Regions from separate parts of the Homo sapiens genome. Here region 1 is linked to region 2. The links come from fine-mapping of genetic effects on gene expression. A gene starts in region 2. The other region holds a variant in brackets. All regions are shown on one strand. Distances are between the middles of the regions. Region 1 overlaps OBI1 (ORC ubiquitin ligase 1). Region 2 holds the start of OBI1 (ORC ubiquitin ligase 1).

The links.
Region 1: its variant is fine-mapped to the expression of OBI1 in whole blood (TOPMed, PIP 0.99).

Annotation. Positions count from the first base shown.
Region 1 is chr13:78,623,694-78,632,038 of GRCh38, reverse strand. All of the region lies in intron 5 of OBI1 (ORC ubiquitin ligase 1), which reads left to right. Among named protein-coding and RNA genes, the nearest start is that of POU4F1, 24 kb to the right of the region's middle. The variant G/TG (reference allele first, on the strand shown) is at 4,595.
Region 2 is chr13:78,654,381-78,662,725 of GRCh38, reverse strand. OBI1 (ORC ubiquitin ligase 1) reads left to right here and starts at 3,571. Exons shown (of 6, transcript NM_024546.4): 1 at 3,571-3,677. The coding sequence starts at 3,606. RefSeq lists enhancers at 4,213-4,292, 4,203-5,163.

The DNA of each region.
Region 1 (8,345 bases), 31 kb after region 2:
CTTTCTAAGATGCTCCAACAGATACCATGCTATTTTCCAAAAACTTGACTAAAATCTGGTACGAACAAAGGAGATTTACATTGGTCTCAAGAACATGGTATTGTATAAAAACGAATATATTTTACATACAATCTTTTAAAAACAATACCATAATCTTTTAAAATGAAGGTGTTGGTTATCATTTGTCTCCTCTGCTATACTGTACCTGGACATTTTTCCTTCCTCAATTTTAACTTAAAAGCCCTCTTGAGCAATGTGGCAGATAGCCTACTAAGCATGTTCTTCTAGGTTTCAATAATATTCATCCTGTTCCTTGCCAAAAATTCATTTGTCCTAATATCCAAACTCGTTGTCCAGAAAATGCAGTCTTTTCCTTTGGCTTTATTTAGCCACTTTCTGAATCCTTATTATGCTTCTGAATTTATTTCACCTGGAGGAAACCACCTGTTTGGCCCTTCAGTTTCCCCTAACTTGGACTCCTAAGAGATTTGGATTTGATCTTCAGAGCTCAAGGGGTGGTGATATGACCTTTAAGTTTACAAGAGTAATATGTGAAGAAGACTTACTCCACTTGCCAACCCAGAAATAATGAATTTTTTCTTACTTAACATTGTGCTAGATGCTTGGAACAAAATAAATACTCTCTCTGACCCCTAAAGAAGGTTGGGTTCCCTTGCTGTGATTTCTTATTACTTGTACTTTCCCTTAGCAAATGTCACAACTGCTAATAATTAACACTTTGTGTAATTGTTTTATGACTTTGTTCTGTTTGAGCAAGGGCTATAATATGTAGTCACTATTGCAACCACTGCATTTTATAGGATTCTGGCTCCCATGCTGCTCCTACTACGTATCTATTGAGTAAATGAATGAAAAAAGCATAACTCCTATGACTGAGGAAACATACAGACAAATCCAGAATGTGGGATACTCAATAGGAAAAATGACTAGGTTTCTTCATTAAGTCATTGAGGGAGGGTGCTGCTTTACAGTAAAAAAGAACTATGAAACATAATAACCAAATGCAATGTGGACTTGTTAGCATACTGATTAGTAACAAACTGTTGAAAGATATTTTAGAGGCAGCTGGGTAAATTTGAATATGAAGCAAGTATTAAATGAAATAATAGCAAGGAATCACTCTTAATTTTGTTTAGGTATCATGATTACTTAAGAAAACACCATTTATGTTAGTCCTTTTGGGCTGCTATAACAAAATACCCTAAACTGATTGGCTTATAAGCAACAGAAATTTATTTCTTACAGTTCTGGAGGCTTAGAAGTCCAAGATCAAGGTGCCAGCTGGTCTAGTGAGGCCCACTTCCTGCTTCATAGACAGCTGTGTCTTTTTGCTGTATCCTCGAATGGCAGAAAGGACAAAGGAGCTTTGTGGGACATCTTTTTAAGGGCATTAATCTCACTTATGAGGGCTTGAACCTTTTGACCTATAGGCCCCAGAAGCCCTTACCTTTAAATATTATACCATCACCTCCTATTGGCCCTGCCCCAAATACCATCACTTTAGGGATTAGGTTTCAACATAAGAATTTATGGGGGACACAAACATTTAGTCTATGGCACCATATTTTCTTTTGGAAATGCATCCTAAAACATGAACTATAGAATACTTTGGCAAAAGGCAAAGGATATAATACAAAGGAAATAAGACAAAAATCTTGATAATTGTTGAATATGTGTTATGAGTAAATGGGAGTTTATTATGTTCTCCCTACTTCTGTGAATGGTTAGAATTGTTTATATTAAGGAAAAAAACCCCAGCAAAACATGGTCCCTGCTTCCAGAAAAGTAGTTAATGAAGGCATGACATGAAAATATATGAAACAAATGCTTAACAGATACTAAGCCAAATAATAGAGACAGCAGTATGGGTTCAGAGAATGATGGTTAGGTTGCAGGGATAAGGAAGATCTTTATCAAAAAGAACTTAAGCCCAGCTTTGAAGGATGGAGATTTCAGGGAGGAGAAAGGCATTCTGAGTGAGAGAAAACAGCATGTGCTGTTAGGAGTACTAAGCGGTCCCTTCAGCCCCAGTCCTTTTTCTCCAGTAGTAGTAGCCACATATCGTGGTACTACTCAGTAAGCACACTAGCTTTCTTCTCAAATTTACCAGAGCAAAAGTCCATGTAATTTTTACATCTCTCTACTGTGACCATCATCCCTCTATTTTTATAGTTTGGTAGCATGACTCCACTACATCCACCACTTTCTACTCTAAGCAGAAGGGCCTGTTCTCAGTCTGAATATTTAGTGGGGAATGTGAAGCGTGTCACATCCCCACATGGTAAGAAACATCAAGAAAGGGAAGAAGCTGAAGGGAACACTTAAGTACTGGATTTCTCATATTCCTAAATTCCCTTGACTTTAATTACTACTCCTAAACTGTGCCAAGCTATGTGGATATACTTATCCTTGGTAGAGTTAGAAGTTCCTTAGTGACTTTTTTAACTTGAAGAGATGTGAAGAATTGACTTGTAAAGCATTTGAAAGTTCTGTGCCCTCTCTCCATGTCTCTGTTCAGTTGTGCCACTTTTTTTTTCTCTAGCCACTTGAGGCAGGGATCATGCTATGTCACCAACTATTATGAGGATTTAGTAGAGCAGGTATTTTTGTCCTCAGCTACTAACTCACCTTAATAGTATGGGATATACTATTAGGTCATTTATATCAAACTTGGTTATAATTGAATTAATGGCTTTTCTTTCTATAAATATGTATGCAGGAATGTTATGTGTTCTGTCATTGTGTCTTTAGTGAGATCTATGGGTTTGATAATGTCTCCCTGAGTGCAGTTCATTTTACTGTACAGCAACCCCAAGGCTTGTCATTATGGACAAGTCTTCAGCAATGCCTCAGCTCCTTTTGGGGGAGGATAAAGGCTCTAGATACTCTGGGCAGTAAGTAATATTTTCTGTTATTAAGATATGAAAAGAAGTGTTCTGAAGAGGAAGGAATAGACTTCATTGATTGTGACCTGGGCTTGCTTCCTTTTTTGCTCTATTTGTATTTTTTGAGCCATCAGAAATGAAATTTAAAATCAGTTAGCTTAGGGCTTTAATAATTGTCTGCCTATGTGTCAGAGATTATAAAACAAAATCAAAATCTTTGACCTCACATTCTCTCCTGAACTGCAGGTTCATGTTTTCATCTATCTTTTTTGTGCCTTTACCAGAGATTCTATACCTCAAATTAACCACAGAGCACGGTGGTTAAGAGCTTAACTCTGGAATCAGACTTCCTGGATTCAAATTTCCCTTCTTCCATTTTGTCCGTCCTTTCCCTACCCAATTCATTTTTCACCATACTCAAAACTGTCTTTTAATAAAGTACATATAAAATTATTTAAATCTCCTGCTTAAAACTATTCAGTGTTTTCCTAGAATAAAATCCAGACTCTTCACTGGCTAGTCTGCATCTGCCACCTCTTCTTCGTCTAATTCTTAACTCCTCCATCTCATCCTACTCCAGTTCTACTAGACTTTGTTTCTAAAACATGCTGTGTTTATTTCCTTTGCTTAGAATACTCTCCTTGCAGATCTTTACATGGCTGTCTCCTTCAATCCTCAGATGAAGGGAAGCCTTTTCTGATCATTCAATCTAAAGCAGCCCTTTCACTCAGCACCTTCTACTGCCTTAACAGAAGACCATAATAATAAAATCATGGTTGGGTAAAACAGTAGAGCATGGTGATTGTGAACACAAACCTTGGAGCCAGACTCCATATGACCGAACACTAATCTTGCCTACTTACTAGCTCTGTGATTTAGACAAAGATATTTAACCTTTCTGTATCTCAGTTTTTGTCTTCTGTGCAGTAGGGTTAATAGTACTACCTATCTTGTAAGTAATAGTAAGAGTTAAATGAAACTTAAAATACCCTTTTAACAGAGTCCATAGTTAGCAATTAATATTATAGTATTGTCTTCACAGCCATTATCACTGTCTGAAATTGTCTTGTTCATTTAATTGCGTGGCCTGTTTGTTGTCTGTCTCCTCCATTCTAAACTCTAAGCTCCATTTTAAACTCTAAGCTCCTTGCTGCCTATCCCCTTCATTTCCAAAGCCCCCAGTATCTGAAGATACCTGATAAATATTTTTTGAATAATTGAATGAATAAACAAGTAAATAACATTGGATAAATTAACCTTGAAGTCTTTTTTTAACATAAAATGAGGGTGCGTTATTATGAGGATTAAAGGAAATCTATTACCTTGACATGATGTGTCGTATAAAGAATGGGAAGACAAAATAATATAAATCTTCTATAAAGATACATGCTTGCATATGTTTATTGCAGAACTATTTACAATAGCAAAGACATGGAACCAACCCAGATGACCATCAGTGATAGACTGGGTAAAGAAAATGTGGTACATATACAGCATGGAATGCTATGCAGCCATAAAAAGGAATGAGATCATGTCCTTTGGAGGAACATGGGTGAAATTGGAAGCCATTATCCTCAGCAAACTAGCACAGGAACAGAAAACTAAACATCACATGTTCTCACTTATAAGTGGAAATTGAACATTGAGAGCACATGGACACAGAGAAGGGAACAGCACCCACCAGGGCC[G/TG]TTAAGGGGTGGGGGCTGAGGGGAGGGAATTTAGAGGATGGGTCAGTAGGTGCAGCAAACCACCATGGCACACGTATACCTATGTAATAAACCTGAATGTTCTGCACATGTATCCTTTTTTTTTTTTTTTTTTTTAGAATAAATAAAACAGGTAGAGGTGGGATGGGGGAATGTGTATGTCTAAAAAATCATATTCATAATCCCCCATCCCATGCAAAAGATCCGCTTTGTTCCTGTCCTTCTTAATGACTTTAGTACTTTAGTATGTTCTCTATAGCCTACCTTTTTAAAATGCCTCTGTAATCCATCTTCTCATTTTCACTAGTTTAGATCCATATTATTTCTTGCCTAGCCTGTTGTAACAGCCTTTCTACTGCTTACCTTTCTTTCCTGTGCTGTCGCCCAGGCTGGAGTGCAGTGGCACCATCTCAGTTCACTGCAAGCTCCGCCCCCTGGGTTCATGCTATTCTCCTGCCTCAGCCTCCTGAGTAGCTGGGACTACAGGCGCCCGCCACCATGCCCGGCTAATTTTTTGTATTTTTAGTAGAGATGGGGTTTCACTGTGTTAGCCAGGATGGTCTCGATCTCCTGACCTCATGATCCGCCTGCCTTGGCCTCCCAAAGTCTGGGATTACAGGTGTGAGCCACCACGCCTGGCCCCAATATTCTTGGTCTAGTATAAAAGGGTCTTTACTATATAACTTCAGTTTAATATCCTTGCCTCTTCTCTAGCCCCTCGCTTCTTGTGCTCTGCTCTGGCTATGCTGAATTTCTCATTGGGCCCACATTCATCATACTGTATTTTCCCTGGTTCTCCACATTAGCTTCTCTTGTTTTTATTCTTCCTGGTTAATCCCTGTCTGTCCTTTGAGATCTAGCCCAGTTGTTGGTTTATATGTGAGGCCCTCCCTAATTTTCCTAGACAGAGGTAGCATTTTCCTCTTGTACTTTTGATTACTCTTCTTCTACCCTGTTGTTTTAATGATCGTGTTGTATGTTGATCATTTCCATGACTGTCGTACCCAGTTAATCTGGCAGCTCCTTGGCACCAAGACATATTTTTTAAATGCACATTTGTGTATTTGTACAAAATACGTATATATGTGTGTGTATCTTCCTTTTATGGAGTCTTACAGAAGGAAAGAGTCCTTATACTTTAATACTTGAAGCTTAAAGTACAAAGGATGTAAGAAAACAGGAAATCAGAGATTCCTGGAACTTTCTCCACATTAGAGCAAAGGATTTCTGGAAGCTTTCCTCTTTAAGTTATGCCAGAGATTCAGAGTTAGAAAGAGAAACAGAGGAGGTGATAGTAGGGACTTGCCTGGCTATAGTCTTGAGTTTCTTGTCCGCATCTATTTACTTGAATCAGATTTTCCTTCCTTTACCTGTCTCCATGCTGACTCTGAGCTGTGCAGTTAGTTCCATTTCACAGGTCTGCTCTTTCTAAACTATGTCTCAAGATGTGCTAGTAATGCTCTAACCTTTTGGTTCCTCATCAACACTGCTGGTCTGGCTGGCTCTTGCTGTTGTCCCTTCTTGACCTATTCTGGCCTTTTTTGTTTATCACGATTCTTCTCTGACAAATGTGGTGATTTCCTAGTATTTGACCCTAGCCTGATCCAATGACTGATTCTGCTATGCCTTTGGTTTTCCCGGAAGGGGAACTTGTAGACTGTCAGGGGAGCCTGATGATACCCTGGGGCCAGACTGTGACAGCCAGTTGTGCTCAGGCCCCTTGGCTGCCTGAGGGACCCTTCTCTGGATATTCACTTAATTGGGGATAGACAGGTACTGCAGTTTTCTGTCAGTTTGTCTTTATTGTATTGATAAGGTACTTGGGGAGGCGGCAGTGCATGCTAATGACTAAGCAGTAAGGTTGTCAGAGAGATTATGAACTGTTTGAGAAGAGGAATGATCACTTCTACTTCCTTTGTTTTCCTTCTTCATAGCCCCTGAGCACACATTAGTCCTCAATAACTGTCATCTGAGTAATAATTACAGGGTATCTAGATCAGTTTTTTGTTGTGTTTCGTTTTCTTTTAGATTTTGTTTCATGCTGAGAGAGAATAAGAGATCATTTAGTTAAGGTGGAAAATGTATAGACAGGTAGATACTAATCCAGAGATTTTTAAGTATATTTTTTATCACTCAACAGTAGTTGCACTCTTTTACAGTATTGAGATTTTGTTGTTAAGGTTATTTTATTTTGGGAAAAGATGTAAGTCCTTTAATTTCTCTTAGAAATAAAAAGATATGAAATAGCATGTCTTAATTTTCTCTCCTTTCCATGACAGATTAGGATCCCTGTTAATGTCCTGCAAATTTCAAGGCTGATCTTGGTTGGTTGAAGGGAGCAGAGGGGAGAAAATGAGGGCATTTCTGCATGGAATCAAAATGAGATATATTTGTCAAATAGAATAGAATTTATTCCACAGTAAAAAGAGTAGTCTGTCCTCACAGGCAATGCAGAGAAAGTAGTACTTAGAGTTAGGCATCCTGTTTTGGGCAACTTTGCCCAGTGTGCTGCCCAGAGAGAAGGAAAGAAACCTTGGAAATGGAGGCTAACTAGTTGCAGTTTCCAAACAGAAGGCCAGAGACCATGTTCCAATTGCCACAGAAGCAAGTAGGGTGAAATTGGCCAGCATGGAACACAGTTTAGTTCTGTATTTCTCCTTATCCACCTGCTGACCCAATACTATGTGGGTCAGCCCTTAGAGGTTTACCACAAAAGGGAGCTGTCTGTTCCTCTTCAGTTCACATATGCTGTTCAACACTCAGGTCATTTTTATTAATTTCTAAGGCATCTCAGAATTTTCACCACAGTTTTTTAACTACAAATGCATAGTTGGTTTAATAAGATAAACACACAAAGAATTTCCTTTAAAATTTTGTTCTGCAGTGAGCCGTGATCATGCCACTGTACTCCAGTCCTCCAGTCTGGGTGACAGGATGAGATCCTGTCTCAAAAATAAATGAATAATATAGTGTTAATAATATAAGCTATTAATTATTAACCCTGCTCTTCATTTGAAAACTTGAAAAGCAAACTCTACTTTGATTTTTAAATGGTACTTTTAGAAGATGGAGGGATAAGGAATTACTGCAAGGGCATAATTCTTTGTCTTGTTCCCCTGTCTTTATCAACTTTGTCTTTAAGGGTGAAATTCTGGCATTTTTTATTCTTGCAAATATTGGAACACTTTCTGTTTTGTGATAAAACTAAGATGCAACATAACGTAGCTTGTATTTTTTTATTTCTCTTAATTATACCCTGAGAAATAACCCATGTGATGTTTAGGCCTTAAAATTTTGCATTTAGTTTTTCTCATTTCATATAAAAAACATCTTTTACTTGTAGTTGAAGATACCTGCTGATTGTGCATGAACCAGGCAAGTTTATCATACATACTTTCTATACATAGCACATTTAAGTATTATGCTTTCAGCTCTGTTTCAAACTTAGTCTTTATATCTCTGGTTAAATATTTGGGTTGGCATTTACCAGGGTGGTCTGTCAATGCTGTACTTTCATGCAAGGCCACTTTAATAAATGATCTTTTAAAATTTCAAAATATTACTGGATTTATGCCTAAAATATGGTGGTGGTTTGATAAATGTTTACTGAATTTGTGCATACATACTATATGTCTTCCTACAATTTTTGTATTTCCTCTGTGTTTCTATTAGCCAATGTATGTACCAATAAATAGCACAAGAATCCTAGTTCATTGACTCTGTATACACATTT
Region 2 (8,345 bases):
TTCTAGGAGTTTTACAGTGAAAGCAGACAACATGTGTCAATCTATTCTAAAAAATCAAAACCAAAACCGAAACCCACTGTTTAAGAGAAACCCAAGTTTTCTGCTGCACTAACAAGTATCTTTCATGCCAACATCTTGAGACACCTTAGTTCAGAATTCCCAGCCTGTGAGAGGACGGTACCATACCTGACATTCATGCTACTGGGCCAGCACCCCTGATTAATTTTTAATGTATCTTTATGAGTTTCCTCAGTGTTAACCACAATCCAGGTGGGGTGTACAAATTTAAAACAAACAAAAAAAAGTCTTTCAGGAATGAAAAATAATGTAAGCTGAAATCAATATTTATGAAGTTGTGATTAATTGACTGATGACCAAATGATTACAAAATGTCTGTCTGAAACATCTACTCAAATTTATTAGCTTTGACCAAAAAAATTAAAAAACAATCCAAACTGGGTCAATGAAAGAATAATGCATTCCTAATCAATTTTTAATAGCACTTAAGATTTTATATTTTTTTAAACTTGCTTTTAAATAATTTATCATCAAAATGAATCTGATTTAAACATGGGGTAAAAGGTGTTCCATAGCTATTTGATGGTTTTCTTAGCAAAGAAATTCAATTATGACTGACTTTTTATTACTGAGACACTTTATTAATAATAATACATCTTGCACTTACACAAAGGCATTGGGCCAACATTCTCAGAGAGTCCAGCAAATGTGATCTAGGATTTAGCCCCAATTCTACTGTTATCTGGTGATTTACCTTATGTAGGCCTTGATTTCCTCATCTGTGAAAGGAAAGGCCTGCATAACAACCCCTAAGAGCCATTTTAGCTCTAAATGTTTATAATTCTAAGGATGTAGGACAGCTTTAGCCCATTCCAGATGTCAAATGTAATAGAACTCATCAGATCACAGGGCTGCTCAAAAAGCTACCAAGATGTGGTGATCAAAATTAAGCAGCAGTGAACCACATAATTTTTGTTTTCCTATTAGGGTAATGGTAGGATCTTTTAGTGATTTGGGCCAAACGACATCTATTTAGAACATGAATTGTCAAAAAATGGGAAATGTCCTTCACAGAGCAGAGAAGAGATAATTCCTGACCTTAAGCCACTTGCATTATTAAAAGCAAAGCCTGGGAACTAGCCTGGCATTCATCTGGACTGAGGAAGAGTCCTAATCAATCTATATTGCTAACAATATTATTTGGATATGTGTGTGCATGTGTGAGGGCATATGTGTATTGATTCATAAAACATTAAGTGAATAAAGCAGGTATGTTATGCTATGACCTTGTTTGTGCTTATGTATACAGTAATAGATGAATTAGTATGTTTTAAGGATATGTTCTAGAATGTTAATAGTGATTTCTACACTGGATACAGAGGTGAGGCAGAAATATGGAGGAACTTTTACTTATTTTATATACTTTTTAATGGCTTGTTTTTCTTAAAATGAGCATGTGTTATTTTTATAATTCTCAAAAAGCAATAGAATCTTCCATTTTGAGATTAAAAACAAGTAAAGAAATTGTTTAAAATAAAACAGCCTGAGTTTATTATAAAGGTAGGCTGTAGCAAATGAGAATATTACTATTTGTGGAACAGTAACCTATTACAGACATTAGATAAATTGGATGCAATCCCTGACCTCAAGAAACATAGCCTGTTGTGGGGACAAACACATCACCAACTATAATACAATGTCATCAGCACAGAAATGGCTGTATGGACTGTGCACTGAAACACTGAGAAGCTGTGACAATGGTATGAAATGTGGAAAGAGATGTTAGAGATAGTCTAAATTTTAATACTTTACTTAAAATGCAGGATATGATTTTTAAAATTATCTTTGTGACTACATATTGACACCCATCAACAAGATGATTTACAAGGAAATGAACTTGCCCCATTAAGTAATGGGAAATGTTTTGAAAAGAAATGTCTTTACAATAGAATACTATTGAGCCATAAAAAATAATAAAATCCTGTCATTTGCAACGGCATGGTTGAACCTGGAGGACGCTGTGTTGAGTGAAACAAGCCAGACACAGAAAGACAATTACCACATGATCTCACATGTACAATCTAATAAAGTTGATCTCACAGAAGTAGAGTGCAGAATAGTGCTCACGGCTGTAATCCCAGCACTGTCGGTAGGTCAAGGAGGGGGGATCCATTGAGCCCAGGAGCTCAAGACCAGCCTGGGCAACATGGGGAAACCACTCCCCGACCCTCGAGGCAGGCGGATCACTTGAGGTCAGGAGTTGGAGACCAGCCTGACCAACAGGGTGAAACTCCGTCTTTACTAAAAATACAAAAATTAGCCAAGCATGGTGGCGCATGACTGTAATCCCAGCTACTCGGGAGGCTGGCTGAGGCAGGCGGATGGGATCGCTTGAGCCTGGGAGGTCGCTGTGTTGGCACCTAGTGGTGACAGAGCTAGACCCTATCTCAAAAAACAAAACAAAAGTTGCCAGAAGCCATGGAGCTACCGTTTAGGTAGGAAGTTGTTGGGGGCAGGGATTTCCGCTGAAGCAGCCCAGGTCCAGAACCCCTTTCTCTTAACCATGAGGCTGCTTCTTGAAGTCATACTGCGTCTTTTTCACAAAGATTAGTAAAAGTTGTCCCGATGGTCTTGTCTTTAAATCTCTCAACTCACAGATTTTACTTGTTAGCGTAATTTATCACATCAGCTCTTCCTCGCTTCAAGTAAGTTGCAGATAAATTCCAAATTTGTTATACTGCATTTAAGATAAATTTAGGAACTTTTAGGTTTTTTTCTTTTTTGTTGGTAGGAAACGCAACTTATAACCTCACAAATTCTCCCTTGGGGTTCAACAACACAGCGGTACATTTCATATGCAACCATGCACCTGAAATGAAGACGTGAAAACGTTAATCTCCTTTTGGTGGAAAACCCAGAGAAGCCCACAGTAAAAATGTATTTTCAGGGAAAGCTGCGATTAAATGTATCAGGATCGTCTCGGACACAGATAAGGAGACAATCACTGTTTTCTTAAGTGAATTATTGTGCCCTCTGGAAGCACATTATATTGAGTGGAAAGAGAACTGACAGAGGTGGAAAGCTGTTTTGAAAAAAATTGAAACGTGTAGATAATGTCTTTTCTCTATGTTTTGATTACGCTGTGTTGGCGGATGTGTGGGGTTTAATAATTAGGCGAAAAACTCTCCATCCTTCACCCCATCCAATCCCCGAAAACAATTTGGGGATTTAAAAAATCGCCTTTCCGTATCTTCCTCTTCTGTCTCCACTATTCCGCTTTCCTTTAGATTTTCCAAGATCCTCGATACTTGTAGTAAACTACCTTCCTACACATTCGCAGGAATCTTGCAGCTCCCTAATCAGTGAATTTTCTTTCTTTCTTTCTTTCTTTCTTTTTTTTTTTTTTTTTTTTAATGAAAGGAAAACGCCTTGGAGATCGCGCGTTTCGAAAGCGCGTTTTCGTTTTCTCTCCTGGGCGGGTTATGGCCCTACCGGGGCGCCGTAGCCGGCCCGCGCGTGCCCAGTCTTGGCGAAGAGTAGCGGTAGGTCGGCGGGACTTCCGTGTTGGCGGGATTCTGAACGCTGCCATGGCTCAGACCGTGCAGAATGTTACATTGTCGCTCACTCTGCCCATCACGTGCCACATTTGCTTGGGGAAGGTAATGGGTGATTGTGGGCACAGCTACAAAACGGGGTTGGATAAGTCGCTCGCCGGGGCCGAGGGCCGTCTCGTGCGGGGGCGGGGAAGGGGCGTGAGGCGCGGAGATGGGAGAAAACGCTAACCCGCGTTCTTGATGGGAGGCCGCGTCCTGGGAGATGGGGGTAGCGCACCGTGATTAATGGATTCATCTGGGCGCCTTTCGGAGGAGGGTGACAGCGGCCCGTGGTCTGCCGGGAGGGCGGCGAGACGGCCCTGCCACCGCCCGCGGCCTCACACTGGCAAGACACCGGCCTCGAAGGAGGCCCCATCAGAAACGCATCGCAGGGATATTTAACTTCCCTCTGCAGCCTCGCGTGGCGTGTAGTGAAGCCCATTAAAACACATTTCCTGGGAGCCTCACCTCGGGCTTCTTAGTCCTCTGTAACTAGTGTTCATCCTCTGGGGCCTACGGTGCTGTGTATTGAGTCTTTTCCATTTCCAAGACCTTTTGCCTTTATCCTGGCCTTGAGGATGACCTTTGCTCTGAATTCCTAATTTGAAAAGTAAATAGTAAGTGCTCCTGGAGGGTATTAGAATAAGAGGTGTGGCTTTTAACTCCAAGAATGGGTCAGTCAGGAGATAGAATACTCTCTCTTTGTGATGCAAGAGGTGCCTAGTGTGTTTGTGAAACAAGGTAGGGAAAGTGGTTCTGAATTAGAAACGGAGCTTTGAATATTCTAATGCATTCCTCTCCTCTTTCATTTCCATTTGTGCCTCACTTTCGGTGTTTTAAAGAGCATTTCTTTACCGAATAGATAAAGAAGGGGAAAGATAAACCACCAACTTTTTTCCACCCTGAATTATTTTTACGTCTGTGGTGTGTCAGGGTGTGTGTTTACCCCCCAGCGCAGACTGAGCCGTAGACTCAGATTTGAGAAATACAAACTTCTAGAGCAAGCATTTGAGTGCCGGCCAATACGATCTGCCTGGGGTGTTTGAAGTTCTGTGTGAATTTACTGGATTCAAAAAGTAGAAGAAAGTCAGCATTGGAAGCAACTGATAATTCTGGATAGCAGTCAGAATGAAATGCCAATGAAATAGCAAATGTGCTGGGAGATCATGGATTGGGGATGGCTTGATCAATTTGGAGAGATCAAGGATGGCCTCATCGAGGATGGTGTTTGAGCTGGCATTGAGCTATTACTTACTGCCTGCACGGCTAGGGGGAGGGAAGAAGCGATGTTTCTATTTGCCACAGTCTACATTTGGCTCCTGACATAAAGTTCCTGGAAATATGTGTTAAATTCTGAGTTAATTTCCTCCAACACTGGCTTTAAAGGCTGATAAAAATATTCTTGGGAAGTATTTTGTACACATTATATATAGTTTCCATTAGTTATAGGCTGTCTTTTGCAATTGTATTGACAGTGTTCTGTTTGATTTACCAAACCTATACTTTTTGTATTTAACGAGAGTGATACCTCATAGAATATAGTGATTTGCAGACTACAGAGTGCTTTTGTATGCATATATTATTTTGTTTACTCTTCACACCAATGCTTTAAGATAGGGCTGGTTTTTCCATTTTTAAAATAAGAATATTAAAGCTTAGAGTCTGTGGTTGAACCTCTATACTATCATTTGTGTCTTCAGAATACTAAGACTTTGAGTCTTCATAGTTGAACCTCTATCATTATTACCATTTGTCTTCAGATTACTTCGTAAAACCCTCACCTAAGTTCATCCATGACATCAGGCATTTTTAGTGTTTTTTTTTTCCTGTATTGGTTAACTTTATTCTGAAATAAAAATCAGATAATAAAAATAAAAAGATTAAGACTTTTGTCTTAATCTTATGTGCCAGACTTTATGCTAAACTTTGCACATGCTTCATTTAATCTTCTGAAAACAGAAAGGATGGGGAGTTGATGTTATTACCATATTTCTACTGTTACAGATAAGGAAACAGGCTCAAAAAGGTTAAGCCAGGCGCGGTGGCTCACGCCTGTAATCCCAGCACTTTGGGAGGCCGAGGCGGGCAGATCGCCTGAGGTCAGGAGTTTGAGACCAGCATGGCCAATATGGTGAAACCCCATCGCTACTAAAAATACAAAATTTGCTGGGTGTGGTGGCAGGCGCCTGTAATCCCAGTTGAGGCAGGAGAATTGCTTGAACCTGGGAGGCGGAGGTTGTAGTGAGCTGAGATCGCGCCATTGCACTCCAGCCTGGGCAACAAGAGTGAGACTTTGTCTCAAAAAAAAAAAAAAAAAAAAAATTAAAAATAAAAGAAAATTAATTAATTAAGGATTTTTAAACAGGCTCCTCCCCCCCCCCCCCCAGGTACCATGGAAGCAGAAAGGATATGTGACTGAGGGCCTGAGTTCTACATTCAGGCTAGCCGGGTTCTAATCTAATCTACCACTTACCACTCATACAACCTTTTACAAGTTACTTAACTTTTTTTCTTTTTTTTTTCTTTTTTTCTGAGACGGAGTTTCGCTCTTGTTGCCCGGGCTGGAGAGCAATGGCGCGATCTCGGCTCACCGCAACCTCCGCCTCCCGGGTTCAAGCAATTCTCCTGCCTCAGCCTCCTGAGTAGCTGGGATTACAGGCATGCGCCACCACGCCCGGCAAATTTTGTATTTTTGGTAGAGACGGGGTTTCTCCATGTTGGTCAGGCTGGTCTTGAACTCCCGAACTAGGTGATCTGCCCGCCTCGGCCTCCCAAAGTGCTGGGATTACAAGCGTGAGCCACCACTCCCAGCTTAAGTTACTTAACTCTTTTGAGCCTGTTTCCTTATCTGTAACAGTAAAAATATGGTAATAACATCAACTCCCCATCCTTTCAGTTTTCAGAAGATTAAACAAAGCATGTGCAAAGTTTAGCATAAAGTCTGGCACATAATGTTTAATAACTGTTAGCTTTTACTATAGCCATTGAGGCCAGCCCTCAAACTGAGGAAACCAGCCTTTTCCAGTAATTGTTCTTCCCAGTTGCTTTGTGAGGCTGGAGCACTTCAAAATGAAGATTTGCATTCCCAACCAAATGAGACCTGTTTGTTCTGGAAATTGCCACAGTACATCCAGAATTTTCAGCTGGTTCCATGTCTCTTTTCTTTTTTATAGTGAAAGCAAATTCAGTATGATTGTGCTGCTCACCCTCCTACACGTATTATACTGTGAGATACTAAAACTGGCGTGTCCTCAGGTTCGCTTCTGCTTCCCTGACATAGAGCATCTCTGGCCACTTCTAAGAATGTTCCTAAGGTCCTTCGTGCCTAGCTCTTTTTTAAAGATAATTGTTCTTGTGCTACTGTTACCATATGTCCCCAGATCTCACAGTCAGCATCTTCTCTTTTGATTATTCAACAGAATTAAGGACCATTATCCCTGGAGGGTCACAAGGTGGATACCATGAAGGGGGAGAGATGAGGGCAGGGCATTAAATCTGAAGAGATAGATGCCAGTGGGGATGGAGAGGAAGGAGAGAGAGCCCAGGTATTCACCTGTTAATGCTTTGTCTTTGCACTTAAAATTGGAAAATTTACACCTCTGTCTCTACTTCAGTTTTAAAGGTGAATTTTCTCTACCCAATAATGTTTTTAGTTACTTTGCCAATATTGTAAGTAAGAGCTCTATGTGGCCTGAAGAAGTTAGGTACCATCCCATGGGATGATTTACGCATAACATATTTTCTTACCTATTCTTCCCTGTTTTTTTTTTGTTTGTTTGTTTCTTAAACTAGTGGGCCAGCAAGCAGAAATGTAGTAATGATCTATCCCAGAGTATCTGTTAAGTGACATTTTGATAGTGCCACCAGGCTGTTACAAACCAGTTTACCTCTAGATAATTCCAGGGTTTATCTTTTCAATTGGGACTCAAGCTGTGAAACCAAATTATGGCATGTAATACTTTTTATTGGCCGTGCATGCATTTTGCCATGAGTGAAAGCCAAATGTGGCCCGCAGTTGGTTTTATGAAAGGGTGAAGGAGATTCTCAAGAGAAATGCAAAGCAACTAATGCTTTTCAGCATTAATGTATCATATTCAGTTATTTCTCATTCGACTATGAGTCCAGTTTTGGGTCCTACCCTTTAAGATAAACAATAAACCAGAGTATTTTGAAAACATTTGGGGGAGAATGAAATTGGGATTGGAATGTAGGTGGACTGGAATAGTGCTGGAATGAATGGATATGATAGGGAATCTTTAATTAAAATATTTTTCATTTGGAAGGGACTCAAGCCTTGTGTGGCTCCATAAAATTATGATTTCTACTTAATATTAAGGGCAAGTGTTCTGGCTGAAATAACCAGAAATGAAATCAGCTTCCTTATAATGCAGGAGTTCCTGTGTCTTGGAGTATCCTCTAGTAGACTGACTGTTTCCCATAAGGAATGCTATCAAAAGGATCCCTTCTTTCAGGGATGCCTCTCTTCTTCTCACCCATATTGTTTATTTAAAATATTGAAAATATAGGGCTAGAGACAAAGCCTTATGCAACTTAGAGTCCTCACTCTAGGATGACAAAATTCATTAATCACTGTTCACTTGGAGCTGTTGATTGATCAGCAAGTCATCCACGTCAGTACATGGAGCCCATGTTTGAGTCCTGATTGCCTCTCAGTTCCCAAGAGTGGATTTAAGAACCAGCCTTGTACATAATTGTCATAAGTAATTTGCTTTG